Homo sapiens: one gene and its partner. Changing the gene in region 1 together with any one later gene gives a genetic interaction. Each region holds a gene or a part of one and is shown on either strand. Other genes may lie near its edges.

Evidence for each region.
Region 2: of ROBO2 (region 1) and MYCBP2, changing one suppresses a phenotype caused by changing the other (phenotypic suppression), as found in Homo sapiens cells (one study listed by BioGRID).

What each region holds. Positions count from the first base shown.
Region 1 is NC_000003.12:77,035,224-77,043,124, reverse strand, and holds the start of ROBO2 (roundabout homolog 2 isoform 23 precursor), read right to left. Parts: upstream 3,027-7,901; 5' UTR 2,340-3,026; coding exon 2,279-2,339; intron 1-2,278. UniProt on the Homo sapiens protein: Receptor for SLIT2, and probably SLIT1, which are thought to act as molecular guidance cue in cellular migration, including axonal navigation at the ventral midline of the neural tube and projection of axons to different regions during neuronal development.
Region 2 is NC_000013.11:77,317,056-77,324,094, reverse strand, and holds part of MYCBP2 (E3 ubiquitin-protein ligase MYCBP2), read left to right. Parts: intron 1-7,039. UniProt on the Homo sapiens protein: Atypical E3 ubiquitin-protein ligase which specifically mediates ubiquitination of threonine and serine residues on target proteins, instead of ubiquitinating lysine residues.

The DNA of each region.
Region 1 (7,901 bases):
GCCTAGAGGGCAGTGTTCTCCACATCCCAAATTTTCAACCATCCCCGTGGAGAAACTGTCATTCTGAAGTATCCAAAGGCAATCCAATGTCAAACGTATGATTTACATATTAATTTAGTAAGAGTGTCCAGGGTTTCCTTTGCTTTTGACACAGCAGATGCTAAATACAAAACTAGTTTCACACACACAAAAATTTAATATTGCCTTTTCAGTGTCAACTCCTCAATTTTGGCATTTTTCACTACATTACTATGAGTTCTGCTGCATAATTGTGGCCCAGACACAAACTGCCCCCTTATCCTACAATGTTAAATCAGAACAAAGGTTCTAGGTTGTCTTTGGGGGCAGGAGAAGGGTGGTGTGGGAGAGAAGGAAGGAAAGAAGGGAGAGAGGAATAAAACGGAGAGAAAGAAGGGAGGGAGGAATGAAAGGAGGGAGGGAGGGAAGGCAGACAGAAATGGTGTCTTACTACTGCTGCTCCAGCAAGCTGGTTAATTGCATTTGTTTCATATATCTCCAAACACCCTGGTATATTAATTACATTCTGTAACACCAAGCTCTTCTGATTTCCTGTCACTTCCACTGAGCAATTTAATTGTATTCCTCCTAGCAACACACTGATTTAAAAACGCTTATATAAAAAAACCCTTGGTGATAATTTTGTAGTCTAATGTATAGTTTACACATGCATTTCTGTTGAGATATGTAAATTCATGATTTATGAGGACATATTCTTTTAAAAGTTATACCAAATTCTTCTTATCATGAAAATCAAACACACCTGGGACAAATAGGTAAACCTATTTTGTTACGGTAATGTACACGTATTTTAATGTACTGAAAAATAAATGCATGAAAAATAATTAGAGATGTTGCCATAGTATAATTCACAATAATTAAATCTTAAACATCTACTGCTTAGACTGGTAAAAGAGAGAAGCAGTGCACACACACGCATCCCTCCCTCACTATCGCTGGGGGGCAAAGGTACTCATGTAGTCCATGATTGAAAACAGCCACTTGACAGTAGGTAAACTCCTCTGTATTGCCTCATGTTTATAGAAAGCCTTCCTTTTTGAGTCCAATACATTGGGCTCTATGCAGCAGTAGCTGCCAGGAACAAAGTTAGCTACTCAGATGGGCCAAAATAGGCAGTGTCCCAAATAATGAATTCATCCACAATGCAAATGCTGGAGGAAAGTTTATGTGGCAACAAGCTATTGTGATGGCTCAAACAGTTAGACTAATACCCTTTAGGTTCTTTACAAGTACAGAAAGTAACTAAAAACCTAAAGTACTGCAATCCAGTTAGAAAAAAAAAATATCTAGTACTCCCTTATACCAGTTGTTTCCATCGATATAAAAATTAAAGCCTCTAGAAGGTTAACAGCAAATATTCTTTTAACTTTTTTCTTTTGAATACAAACCAAAAAGCATGTTAATGATTATTTCCACTCTTCATTCAAAAGAACCACAAAAAAGGATTTTGCAATAGTCGCACAAGAAATTGACATCCTGTGAAAATATCCCAGTAAACCAAATCGGAACAAAAGACAAGAGAATCAGAGGCAGAATGCTGTGGGCTTGACAGACTGACTCAACCTAGAGGGAGACACCTCCAGCACCTGTTTAAGGTCCCCATTGTGTTTGCCCACTGGGGACTGAGCTAAGTGTTCTACTCCTGTGGCCAGCCCATAGCTGATGCTTCCCCCTTCGTGGAGCCTCGCCCAGTCTCACTTTTGACAGTTTTCTCCCTAGGATCTAAATTCTTCATTCGATTTAACGCTAGGAGAGCATTCACTGGCACACAGGTGATACACATTGATCTCAGTCTCAAATTCCTAACCCACTGAACCTTCCTTAGAGTGTCTATTACTGTATTTCTTCACTTGAATGTCTCAGCCAAAGTTCAGACACAAGAGCAAACATCAAATAGAGAGCAGGCACAATAGTATTAGGCTCTTGCAGGAGATTGACTGTAATATTTCTTTTTCTAACAAAACTGGGAGCCCAATCATTTATTATCCAACTCCTTAATTAGTGAAGTAAATTACAACAATAACAACAATAGGTGACTACCAACACATTCCACTTACAGCAGTTTAGAAACAAAAGACTTAAATAAAACCTCTGCCCCCAAGGAGCCCGTGCCGGGCCAAAACGGACTAACAGACATAATGTCATTTCATTTATAACCCACATCAAATTCAAAAAGAAATGGTTTTGGGGGATTGGGGGGTGGGGGGCGCAAAAAAAGATGAAAGCATTTTTAACTTACCATCAACCCGAACATATAAAAATCCACAGAGCAGTAGTTGTGTAAACATCAGCAGACTCATTTTGACATATTAAAAAGGATCCAGATTCTTTAAGAAACCAATCCCAGAGAGCAAAAGTACAAAAATGAGTATCAAAAAAAGAGGTAGGTCCAAAGTTTAGACTTTCCTAGATACTAATTAAAGTCAAGAAGAGCAAATCGCAAGATCAGAAGGGGTTGGTGGAGAGGTCTCGAACGGGGCACACTGAGATCCATCCAAATTAACAGAGGGTACTTCAAAGGCTGCTGTATTTCCAGCACTCTGGCTTCCTAAATTCCCACAAATTCAGCCCAGCCAGAGGGATTATTCGAGTGTGTCTAACCCTCTCTCCTTAGGCTCCACTGCAATCCAAAGCCAAGTTCTTCCTTCAGAAGTCAAGATGATGAAGGGGGAGGAAAAGACCTAATTCCTAGAAAGTGTTCCACAAACTTGCCAGCGCGCTGCCGAAAAACCATTGGCCTGCCTACTGGTTTTCTTTCCCCCGGTTTCCTTCTCCGTAGCAGCTCCACGTCCGGAGTTATTTTTTAATATGTCTATATTTTTACTTAACTTCCATAATAAGAATGTGTCAAAGCAACACTTTGCAGGCGGGCAGACTTGGCGGGCCTCTCCTTTGCAGCGGTGTTGCCCTCCCTCCACCTCTCCGGTTTCCAAAAGAGAGGAGAAGGGAAATCAGGACGATTCGGGTGGAGAATCCGAACTCCTACGTGGTGAGGGAGGCAGGGAAGGAGCGAGGGAGGGAGGGAGGGAGGGAGGGGCCGGGCGGAGGCCGAGGCTGCAGACACCCCCGCGGTGCCGCCTCTGAGGATAGTGCACCAGGCGGCTGCGGGCGCGAGCAGAGACGGGCGTGAGAGCCCAGCCCGGGCGCGGCGGAGAAAGGGAGCGCTCAGTCCAGCGCCAGGCGCGCTGAGGCCCCTCGCCCGGGTCCAGCCCCCGCAGCCTCGCAGCAGAGCGTCCGCTTCCTCCGGCAGCTGCCGCGGGTGGAAGGACTTCTAGGAGGGAAGGCGAGGAGGCGGGAGGGGAGGGGAGGAATGAGAGCTGCCTGGAGTCGGCCCGGGGAGGGGCGGGGGCGAGGAGGGGCGCGCGGAGCCCTGAACCTCCGGACTCGGCCACCCGCCCGCTGGGGAGTGGGGAGGGGTCCTGGAGAGCCGAGAGTCCCCGGGGGGACGGAGATGAACAAATTCGGAGAGCCCCGCCGGCTGCCGAGGGCCGAGGCCACCGGGCGACTCCTTCCCCTTCTCCGCGCCCCCGGGTGCCCACTCCTTCCCGCCTCGGGAGGGGATAGGTGGGCTCCAGGCTCCTGCTCCTCGCCGCGTCCCGTTTAATGGGCAGGTAATTTTCTCCGTGAGTGATTTCATGGAAGCCCTTCCTAATTATTCATCCCTCCGTCTGCCGGAGCTGCACGCGCTTTCTTGAAAAAGATCAGCCTCCAGGACCCAGGGCGCAGCCTCATTACGCGTTAAAATCACACACTCACTCACTCTTCACCTTTTAGCCAGATGAGAAGCCGAGTAGGAGGAAGGAAAGGAAAGGAAAGGAAATAGAAGCACCTTTTGGACTGGAAAGGTTGTGTGTAGATGCTTCCTATATGATTCAAAAGCACAAGGGGGAGAAAAAGGAGGGGGCAGAATTCTCTAACCTCCAGCGGCTCATTTTAGCCAAGATCTATGGCCCCCTGCGGCATCCCCAAGGGAAGGAGGAAGGGGAGGCAGCCCCTCTTATGTTACTCAGTTGCCTTTTGACCCCTCCACGATGAGTTTGATGCGCGATCGCGCAGGGCGAGGGAGTTCCACAGAAGATGCTAAGGACGGGGAAGCGGGGATCACAGAGCTTGGGGGAGGGGGATCCCCGAAGTCTTTACCCTCCAGGGACCAGCACCTCCAGAAGGAAATTCGGTAAACATAGGCTCTGGGTGTGGAAAGCCGAAAGCCCAGCTGAGCTCATGGAAGCTCAAAAAGAAGCCGAATTTCAGCCCAAAGACGACAAAACTCTGAAAATTAAGACCAAGACTACCAAAGGATGCCATTCAGGACCGGGGATGATGAAGGAAGGTCACGTTAGATCAAAGGGGTGCCGGTGTCGGCGGTGCCCCGGTGCGGCCGGGCCCACGTGTGATCACAGGCTCGCTGGTAGCCGTTTGATGCTTGTTCAGATGATGAGAAGGCGGCTTATAGGAACTCACGCAGGTCCCCGAGCCGAGCTAAATGCTGGATGGTGAGTCTTTAGTTCCCCCTACTGGAAAATATTAGGAAAGGTTCTCTCCAGAAGGGGCCGTCTGAGGAAGAGCCTTTGTTTGGTGGATACGTTTTGGTGCTGCTACTTAACTTAGGTCTCCCTTGCATATTATGGGCGCTGTGTGTTCTTTTAAAAAAAGGTCAGCGACATTCAAGCAATTAGAAGAGACATTAGGACACCTCGGCATGCTTGAAAATTACGGTAATGAAATAGTCTTGCGAAAGAATAAAACAACCACTCTTCTTGTAAAGCATTAAGAGTAATTTCTGCACACTTTTAATCTACAGTATTTACTTGTGAAGAAAAAAGTGCATTCGGTTGTTAAAGTTGAATCACTTGAATTCTCACTATAATAATTCTGAATGTGCTATTGTTTTAGCACCCCGTGAAAAAAGGCTTAACCGTTAAGGAGAAACCCACCCCAAAGGTCCAATACGTCTAAATTGGATAACACTGTGGTTTAGAAACATCCAAAAGTGCGCTATTAACATCTCTTTTATCTCTGGAAAAGGAAAGTAATTAAAATTCTTGAAAACTTTCATTTTAAACACTTGGGCTTGGTTTACCCAGTTCAGGATTACAATGTCTAGCTCATGTCTCCAAATAATACACACCACCAGCTTATCTCGGGCAAATTTCCTTACGCGGGTGAAATTTTTAAGATATTCGGAAAATAGTCTTCCTAATACAATAATGCAGGAATTAACACATCATATAGACTTATAAGACCCTTAATTTTAAGATGGTTCACAGAAAGGAAGACATTGGAGGATTTCAACTAGAAGTGTTTTCTCATGACTATTTATTTATCAGGCAAAATATAGATTCTATTTTATACTTGATAGACTCACCATCTGTAAATGCCTTTCCTTAAGTAAACTATAAAATCACTCAGAGGCAGAAAGAGTGTGTGTGGGAAACAGAAGGGATAGATTGGGCGAGATCAGCCTACCACCAATTGCCATGGTCCTTTAGGGCAGAAAATGTTGCCCTATTCATAGAAAGTTATCCTTGTGTAGGGTATGACAAATTACATCATACAGAGAAGAGCTTTGTATAAGGGAAATCGCTTTGGTTATATTGGCATTTTTTTTACCAAGCATCAACATTTTGCATTCTTAACTACTTTACCTATTAAAAGTGACAAAGCAAGCCAGTGATTTTAGACTGGTGCCATTTTTTAAATGGCTTTTGTTGTTGTGGTTGTTGTTGTTTGCCATACACTAGCTACCTTATGGAATAATGTCTTCACCAAAACATTTTGGAATCCATGTTTTCTGCTTTTCTTGTAGTCAAGTTCATAACTGGTTTTTTAAAAGAATGCTCTGTCAGTGTCTCATTTGATATGAAATGTGACTAAAAAACCATTATTTTATAACAATCTCATCCCAAATGATAGTTTAGGATTATGACCAAACATCTCACACTAAATTAGCAACAGTAACGAGTCGCCAGACAGAAATTTGTTATGGACAACATTAATTCCAAAAGAACAAAGACATTACCTTCTGAGATATATGATAAGATCTATACTAGAAAAATGTGCATATTTCAATTACACTTAAGACAGTTTTAGTGAGCACTGCCTATATAAAAAATGGATTTCTCACTCCAAATGTTTAATTAAAGGAAAGTCTTTAAAATCTGAAGCTTCTAGTAGAAGTTGGAAATTAAATTTTAGCAGTGCTTTAGCAAAAAAAAAAAAAAATTAAGGTTTTCCTTAAGCCAAAAAGAAACAGCAATGGCTTAGAACAATGAAGCCCCATGACCACCACATCAGAGAGCTTAAGATACAGAAAAATCAAATGGGGATCTGGCTTCAATGTCTTTCTAAATATAAATTGTTTTTTTCTTTTCCAAACAAGCAGCTGAATAGATAAATGTAGATGGAAATCTAGGCTTCTTTTATGTAAAACCTGGAAAGGTATTATATATTCAAAATGTGCCTATATATTTTAATACATCTAAAGATTGTAAGAAACTGTCATTATCCCTAATTTGGGTAAGGTTATCCAATGGCCTTCTTTGTGATTGAATTTCTGAGTTGGTATTCCAGCAGAAGTATAAAATAACCATATGAAGGAAATCTGCAGAGTGTAACATATTAAATATTTCTTTTTTCATACCAGATTCCCCAAGGATGTGGTAAAAACTGCAAAACCCTAATCCACTTTTTTACTCTTTTCAACGTGCTCTTGTTATAATTGTAAGGCAGCATATATATAAAAATCAAAGGTTTGATCCATGATAGTAATTTTAACATATACTGCCATGTAGTGAGCACTAACCACGTGTCAGGGAATTCTTCTAGTTTTTAAAAATTCATCATATTGTTAAATTCCTATAAGAGGCTTATGTGGTTGATACTATTCCCATTGTACAGATGAGAAAAATGAAGATTAGATAATCAACCCAAGTTAATGAAAGGCACAATCTTGCTTTAAATCCAGACCTGAATACAAAGTCTATGTTATCAAGAACTTGAGATTGATTTAAGACATCTACCACATTGCAGAAATAGTATAAGAGTATAATATATTACTCTGATCAATTTAAGAAAACCGCAGTGTACCAAAATATACAGAAATATGTAATCAATTTTTCTTCAAAATTTAAGAACCTCTTTAAAGCCATTGCTCAGCTCGAATTTTTCTATATAAGATTGTCTTATTATACTATACAGAAACATCACATTAAATGACACGTATGTGTTATTATCTACAAAAGGACACAGGACAACTAAAGTAAGTGAAGCATTAAAAATCCTGATCACAGAGAGACGGCTCATTTGCCCCTACATGATTTTTTCTTTATTACACTTGACTTTGTTCCAGAAAGGATCTGAGGGAGCCAAGATAAAATGAATATTGTTCTTCTGAAATATGTTCTAAGTATCTGATTTGATTCGATTCATTTTGAAGTGGTCACCAATACTTGTCTCTATATAAGTCTGTCTGTGTAGCTATTTATGAATAGCATTTTTGGTATATTACATGAAGTTATAAATCTGAATTTAAGTTGACTAAAATATAGTAATAGTTCATTTAAAAGAGTTTTCTCTGCAGAATAAAATCACGTATTTTCAAGAAAGAAAATCTTTCTTCCTTTAGAGTCCAAAATCTATTTGGAAAATCATTATTTATCTTGATCGAAGAGTTCGGTGATACTTCCAAATTAACATAACTATTGAATAAACAAATATTACAGTAAGTGGTATGTAACATTGAGGCCAAATTTCTTTAATTGTGTATACCTTAAAATTTTGAATTTTAAAAGTCACTTAGAGGTTCCTTAGAGGTCATGGATGAGATTTTATTTATCTTCATAGTGTCAGTTCAAGAAGGTCCA
Region 2 (7,039 bases), on another chromosome or scaffold:
TTTTGGTAACTCAAGGGGATTTCAAAGTTGAGGGAAGGATATTCAAGTATAGGAGGTTGGGTGGGATATGCAAATATGGGAGGCTAAATGGAGAGACAGAGTGAAGAAGTGAGAGAGGGGATAATTGATAGGAAAAGGTCAAAGGGATCTCAGGGACAGGAAGAGGTCAAAGGGATCTCAGGGATAGAGTTAAGGTGACAGGTGGAGAGGTTAGCCATTGAAAAAAGGAGCAGTTAATATAGAAGGGGTGGAGGTGAGTACTTGTAAATATAAAGACTGGGAGTTTATTGAGGATAGGCATCATATCCTATTCGTTTTGATAATCCCAATGTCTAGCACATTTTTTGGCATGAATTCTGTAAACATCAAGTGCCTGCTCTGTGCCAGGCAGTATTGCAGATGCTGAAGATGTAGCGGTGAGCAAGATAGACAAAGTCTCTGCCGTCTTGGAAAATCCACTCCAATGGGAGAAATAGACAACTCATAATTTCACTTAGTAATAAGTAACTGTGAAGGCAATAAAACCTATTTCATGTGATAGGGCAATTTGTAGTGGGGCTATTTTAGGTAACATGGTCAGGAAATGTCTCTTTGAGAGTTGGCATTTAAATTGAATTGCCATGATGAGGAGGCAGATGTAGAGGAAGAATGTTCTGGGAATTTATAAAGGCCTTGAAATGGGAACAGGCTTGTGTTCAAGAAACAAAAACATGATGAGTGAGTTATCAGTCAATGTCAAATGAATTAATTACTCTTTGCTTTAGGTGTACAGTTGAGAAGTTGAGAGTTTCAAACCTAATGGACTCAGTGACTTTGATGACAGTCTAACAAAGTGGTTAAGAGCTTGGGCACAGAAGCTAGACTGGTTTTGCATCCTGGTTTTGTCATTTGCTAGCTGTGTAACTTTGAGTATATTACATAACTTCTATGCCTCAGTTTTTTAAATATGTAGAATGGGGATCATAATACTAACATGAATTGTTTTGTAGATTAAATGAATCAATGTATGTGCTTGGCATGTTGACTGCTATGAAATATTAGTTACTGTTTTTTGTCTGTTTGTTTTTGCTGAGAATGAGGGGTGTGGGGACTTGAAGAGAAGGCAAGGATCATGTCTTACTCTTTTATTTTTGGTCTCAGTGACTGTGTAGAATGTGGGAATAACTCTTTCATTTATCCAGTGACTGAATAGATATATTTTTGGATGAATGAGGCCAATCAAAATCGGAACATTCTGTTGGGGAAAGGGGTTGGACAGGAAATGTATGAAGGAATGTATGATCTGTTCTGAATGTGAATGGTGGTATAACCATGCACTTGGGAGGCACCATAGCACAGTGGCTAAATGTTAGAGCACTGGAGGTAGACTCCCTTAGTTCACGTCTACCTTTTTCTACTTGTGTTAAATTGGGCAAGTTAATTAGACTTTGTCTGTTTCTTTACTTGTAACTTTGTAGTGTTATCAAAAGGACATTATGTCCGCACCTGGTAAGTGCCCATGAAATGTTACCTGTTGTTATTATTAAAATCACATTTAAAATTCCAACCAGCATGGCACTGTATGTTTTTCCACACAAAATAGAAATGGAGAAAACCTAGTTGAGTTGATTTAGGGTTAAAGAAAAAAGAAATGGAAGGTTTTGGGGACAGTGTTTGACTATATGGTAAAAAGGAAAGTGATGCCAAGAGGGAACTGATAGACTGGAAGATAAAGAGGAGTCAGAGTATCTGGGTCCTGAAGTCCTAGAAGAACAATGTTAGTGAAAACAATAGAGGGGATTGTGACCAAAATGGGGAATCTAAACTTAACCCCCTTAGTTTTTTCAGCTGCTTTATCTCTTTCTTGTTAGAAATGGTATTTGAGTCCATCCTTCAGATGCATGGGATTTTGGTTGTAAGAGGTTAAGTAGTCATTTTAGCAAAAGTTCAGGGATTATTTTATTTTACTTATTTTGAGGCAGGCTGGAGTGCAATGGTGTGAACATAGCTCACTGCAGCCTCAACCTCTTGGGCTCAAGTGATCTTCCTGCCTCAGTCTCCTCCAGTAGCTGGGACTACAGGCATGCACCACCATGCCTGGCTTGTTTTTTATTTTTTGTAGACACAGGGTCTCACCATGTTGTCCAGGCTGGTCTTGAACTCCTGAGCTTAAGTGATCCTCCCACCTCCACCTCCCAAAGTGCTGGGATTATGGGTGTGAGCCACCATGCTCAGCTTGCTCAGGGATTATTACTTGGCACTAACCATTGGCCCTATAAAAATTTATAAGACACAAATTCTAGACTTGAGTTTACTGTCTATCTGGAAGTGCAAGATACAAAGGCAGATACTTATAGAAGTGTTAAATGAAATGACCAAGAAAGTATAACCTACTATGACAAAGGCATGGCATTCTAGGCTGGCTTAAAAGCATCAGCAGAGACAGGAAAGCACAGTTTGTATGTAGGTAACAGTAGGAATTCTGTTAGAGCTAGAATGCAGGTGTCATGAAGGACAGTAGTGGAATTCATTCTGGAAATGGAGGCTTTGGCTAGGATGGGGCATCTTGAAGACCAAGGTAAGAATTAGATTTTATTCAGTAGACACTGATCACCCTTGATGGTTTTAAGCTATGAAGAGACGTTATTTATTGTAGGAATATGTCAGGAAGTAATGCGGGATTGAATCTGTATGTGTACATCTGTATTTGTGCATAGGTAGTAATTTTCTTCATGTAGCTGTTATATCAGTGGAATCCTGTATAGTGTATAAACACAAGTTAAGGCAAAAACTGCTCTATTGGTATACTGGTAGGTAGAAATGTGAAATGAATTAGTTTCCTAACTCAAGAGAAGAAAAAAATCTTGCCTCTGGGCTTAAAAGGAAAATAAAAATGTCAATCTAAAAATACTTTTGTCCTTTAATATATTTGTTTAAAAAATCAACAGAATAGTCTCACTTTTTTCTCAAAAACCAGATTAAACATTTAGGTTTTCTGAGGAGGGGTTAGGTTAATTGAGGTTTAATTTATATACAATAAAATTCATCCTCTTTAAATGTTCATTTGAAGAGTCCTGAAACTATCACCACAGTCAAGTATAGACTGTTTCCATCACTTCATATAAAAAGTTCTGTCAGGCCCTCCTACCCCTGGTTACTGACCGCTGCAAATCAGTTTTCTGTCACTAATATTTTACCTTTTCTAGAATGTCATATAAATCTAGCTCCTTAAGGGCAGGGCCCCCAGGTATTGTTCATCTTTCTGTCTTGTATCTGTATTTCCTGTAAGTGGAAGCTAGACCTTAAGGGTTTATTAGGTGTTCATTAGAAAATTTTTTAGCAAGAATATTGTATATGGCGCTGGGTACTGCATGTTGCATCCCATCCAGAGGTTGTGAGGTTGTCTCACTATTTAATATGTTAAATCTGATTACTTGGGTAAGACGGTACCTACTAGATTTCATCTCTGTAAATGTATGCTTTTTCCATTTGTAAAGAACAAGTAATCACAGGGTAAAAATTTGAGCACATTGTGAATGCCTTTTACCTAATGCTTTTAGCATTCTTTGATAATCCTTGTCTGAGTCAATAATTTCATTAGGGGTTGCAAAATGATGAATTAAAAAATAATTCTGTTATTTCTTCTATGTTTATTAGCTGGTACTCTTCTGCAAAGAAGAGTTGGCCTTCACTGACTGTCAGTGAAATGTAGTTTCTCCTAATCCAGCAGCATAAATGCTTAATTCTCTTCCCTCATTAGCCAAATTGGTGTAATAGTCCAGTGGTGGTGTGGCAGGTGCTGTGGTTAGGCTTTCAGATCCCGCTTTCAGGCACATGTTCCCCTAGCTCTTGGCAATATTGGCAGCTAAAACTGATTGCAGCTGAGTCCCACTCCACGCATTGCCCTGAGCCAAGAGTTGCCTCCCCCAGAGTCATGCCTCCTCTTCAGGGGCAGTTTACATCTAATATCTATACAGTGTAGGGATATAAATGCCTAGCGCTTTTGCTATAAGACAAGCCAACCTTGAAGTCTATCCCAACACCAGAGAGCTCTCCCATGGGTCTGGCTGAGGGCTTCCTGGGACTGCATTGCAGATCAACTCCTTCCTCTGTTCAGTCTTACGTCTTTCACTGCCCCACAGTTGTTGGTTCGGAGGGCACTCCGCAATAAACTTCCGGTGTGCACATCTGCATTTGAGAGTCTGTTTCCTGGGAACCCTCCTACCCAAAGCAGTTGGTGCCAGGAGTGGTCTCAGAAAGTAGACTTTACAGTGAGGTTTTGAAGCTGGATTATTGGCTGGCTGGCTGGCAATGAGAATCGATTCTGGTGCTAGATGGAGCACTAATACTGATAACGCTTGGCATGCACTGTAGCTATGCAACTTAAAACTTTCACTGGTGGTGAGTTGGAATGCTATTCCTGTTGAAGGGAATGCACTGGTGAGTGCACTAGGCTTTTGAGAAGTTCAGAGAAATTAATTATGAGGACAATCATCAGATGGCTTTTGGTAAATAACATTGATAGATTGGAGAAAGATGATGCAAGGTGGAAGATAATTGGGGGCAAAATGTAAAAGGAAATTTATTTAGCATCATGTAAAGAAACACATATACAGTAAGAGGAAAAATCTAAGGCTTCAACCCAAAACTTAATTTTAAGGGTAGCAGAGCACCAAGGTAGGTAGAATTCTCTCTCAGCTATGCTAAGGTCAGTGTTCTGGTTGGGCAGGAATCCTGACCCTTAGGATGGGGCATCTGAGTGCACTTGAAAACCCTGAAACCCCAAATTCCTCTTAACCCTCTGGGCCTGCAGAAGTGGCCTTCTTCTACTAGCTAGAGGGGTTGCTTGCAGACTGTGCTGTCCCTCTTACCCCCAGCTCCTCCTCTCTCGCCTACTGACTATCACCAAACCAACAACTAGGGTTAAGTCACAAGAACACCTAGTTCGGGGTGCTGGATCTGCGAAGGGAGGAAGGGACTGTACACACAAACACACACACACACACGTTCCCAAACTGCACCAAGGCACCCCAAAGCACCACCACAGACACAAAAGAATACCATGGGATATTTCAGAATTTTAAAGGAAACACAGCAATATCTGTCACAAATTACTAGCTTGAGGTAGTTCACGGTTTTGACATTAGCTCATGCCACATTTCTTTTGATGATGTCATATTTTTGCAGGGTTGGATTTTTACTAGTTGTGATACAGATCAAGCACTGTGCAAAAATCAGTGTGGAACAGGAAAGGAGGGTGGCATGTTCAGTCTGATTCCAAGTTTGAGAAGTTGTTCTGTGTCTAACAGGCACACATGTCATATTATCAAGTAATTGAAGTTTTTGTTTGTTTGTTTGTTTTGAGGCAGAGTCTCGCTCTGTCACCCAGGCCAGAGTGCAGTGGTGCGATCTCGGCTCACTGCAACCTCCGCCTGCCAGGTTCAAGTGATTCTTCTGCCTCAGCCTCCTGAGTAGTTGGGATTACAGGCGTGTCCCACCACACTCGGCTGATTTTTGTATTTTTACTAGAGGTGGGGTTTCACCATATTGGTCAGGCTGGTCTCGAACTCCTCACCTCGTGATCCGCCTGCCTCGTTCTCCCAAAGTGCTGGGATTACAGGCGTGAGCCACTGCGCCTGGCCCAGTATTTGTAGTTTTTAAGAAGGAAATAAAAATATTTTTCTTCCAATTTATGTGTTATTTTTTCAAATGTCTACTCATTTGTTAGGACATGAATTCTTGTTATTTGGATCTAACTACTTAATAAACACTACTGTTTGGTATTTCTTTTGGCCTATGAGTGCATGGAAAAATTACCGATGATGGCTGTGCATGGGCCCAATAAAAGGGTTTTCATTCACCAGTGCTGATCTAGCAACTGCTGCTGCTGAATATCCAGCCTGACAGCAGCAGAGATCAATCATCCTTCAAGCAGGCCAACCAGTCCTTATACAGTGGAAAGGACCATGATTCATTTTGATTGGATTTGAGACATATTCTGGGTCTGAATTTGTCTTTCCAGCAGGGTCTCACCCAGGACTACTGTTTGAGGGCTTGCAGGATGTTTGATCCTCTACTACAGGGATCATTTCAGAATAAGGGACCCACTGTTATGTTATGTTATGTTATGTTATGTTATGTTATGTTATGTTATGTTATGTTATGTTATGTTATGTTTTGAGACGGAGTCTTGCTCTGTTGCCCAAGCTGGAGTGCAATGGCGTGATCTCAGCTGACTGCAACCTCCGCCTCCCGGGTTCAAGCAGTTCTCCTACCTCAGCCTCCTGAGTTGCTGGGACTACAGGTGCACATCACCACGCCCAGCTAATTTTTGTGTTTTTAGTAGAGACGGGGTTTCACCATGTGGACCAGGATGGTCTCGAACTCCTGACCTCGTGATCCGGCCACGTCAGCCTCCCAAAGTGCTGGGATTACAGGCGTGAGCCACCGCGCCCGGCCGGGACCCACTTTTATAGAATAGGAGAATCATTTGTCCCATCTTGCACCACACCGTCCAGAAGCTGATGACTTGATAGAGCAGTAAAACAGTCCTTTGATGGCACAGCTGATGATGAGATCCTGCAGCTTGGGCATGATGCCCTGCAAGGGTGAGGCGCCCATTCTCCAGTGTTCCCAGTAGGAAGATCACATGAAATTAGGAGTGGCTCCGCATAGCATCACTCTGTGAATCACCTGGGCAGTTTCTGCTTCCCATCTCCATAGCTCTGATGGCAAGGGGTTAAAAGATCCTGGTTCTCAGAAGAGAAACATTTCCAACAGAGGGCGCTATGAGAATCCTGTTATACTTTAAAGTACAGCTGCCACTAGGATTTGGGGCTCCTTTTCTAAATAAAGAAGTCACCAGGCTGGGCACGATGGCTCACGCCTGTAATCCCAGCACTTTGGGAGGCCGAGATGAGTGGATCACGTGAAGTCAGGAGTTCGAAACCAGCTCAGCCAACATGGTGAGACCCTGTTTGTACTACAAATACAAAACAATTAGCCGGGCATGTTGGCGCGTGCTTGTAATCCCAGCTAATTGGGAGGCTGAGTCAGGAGA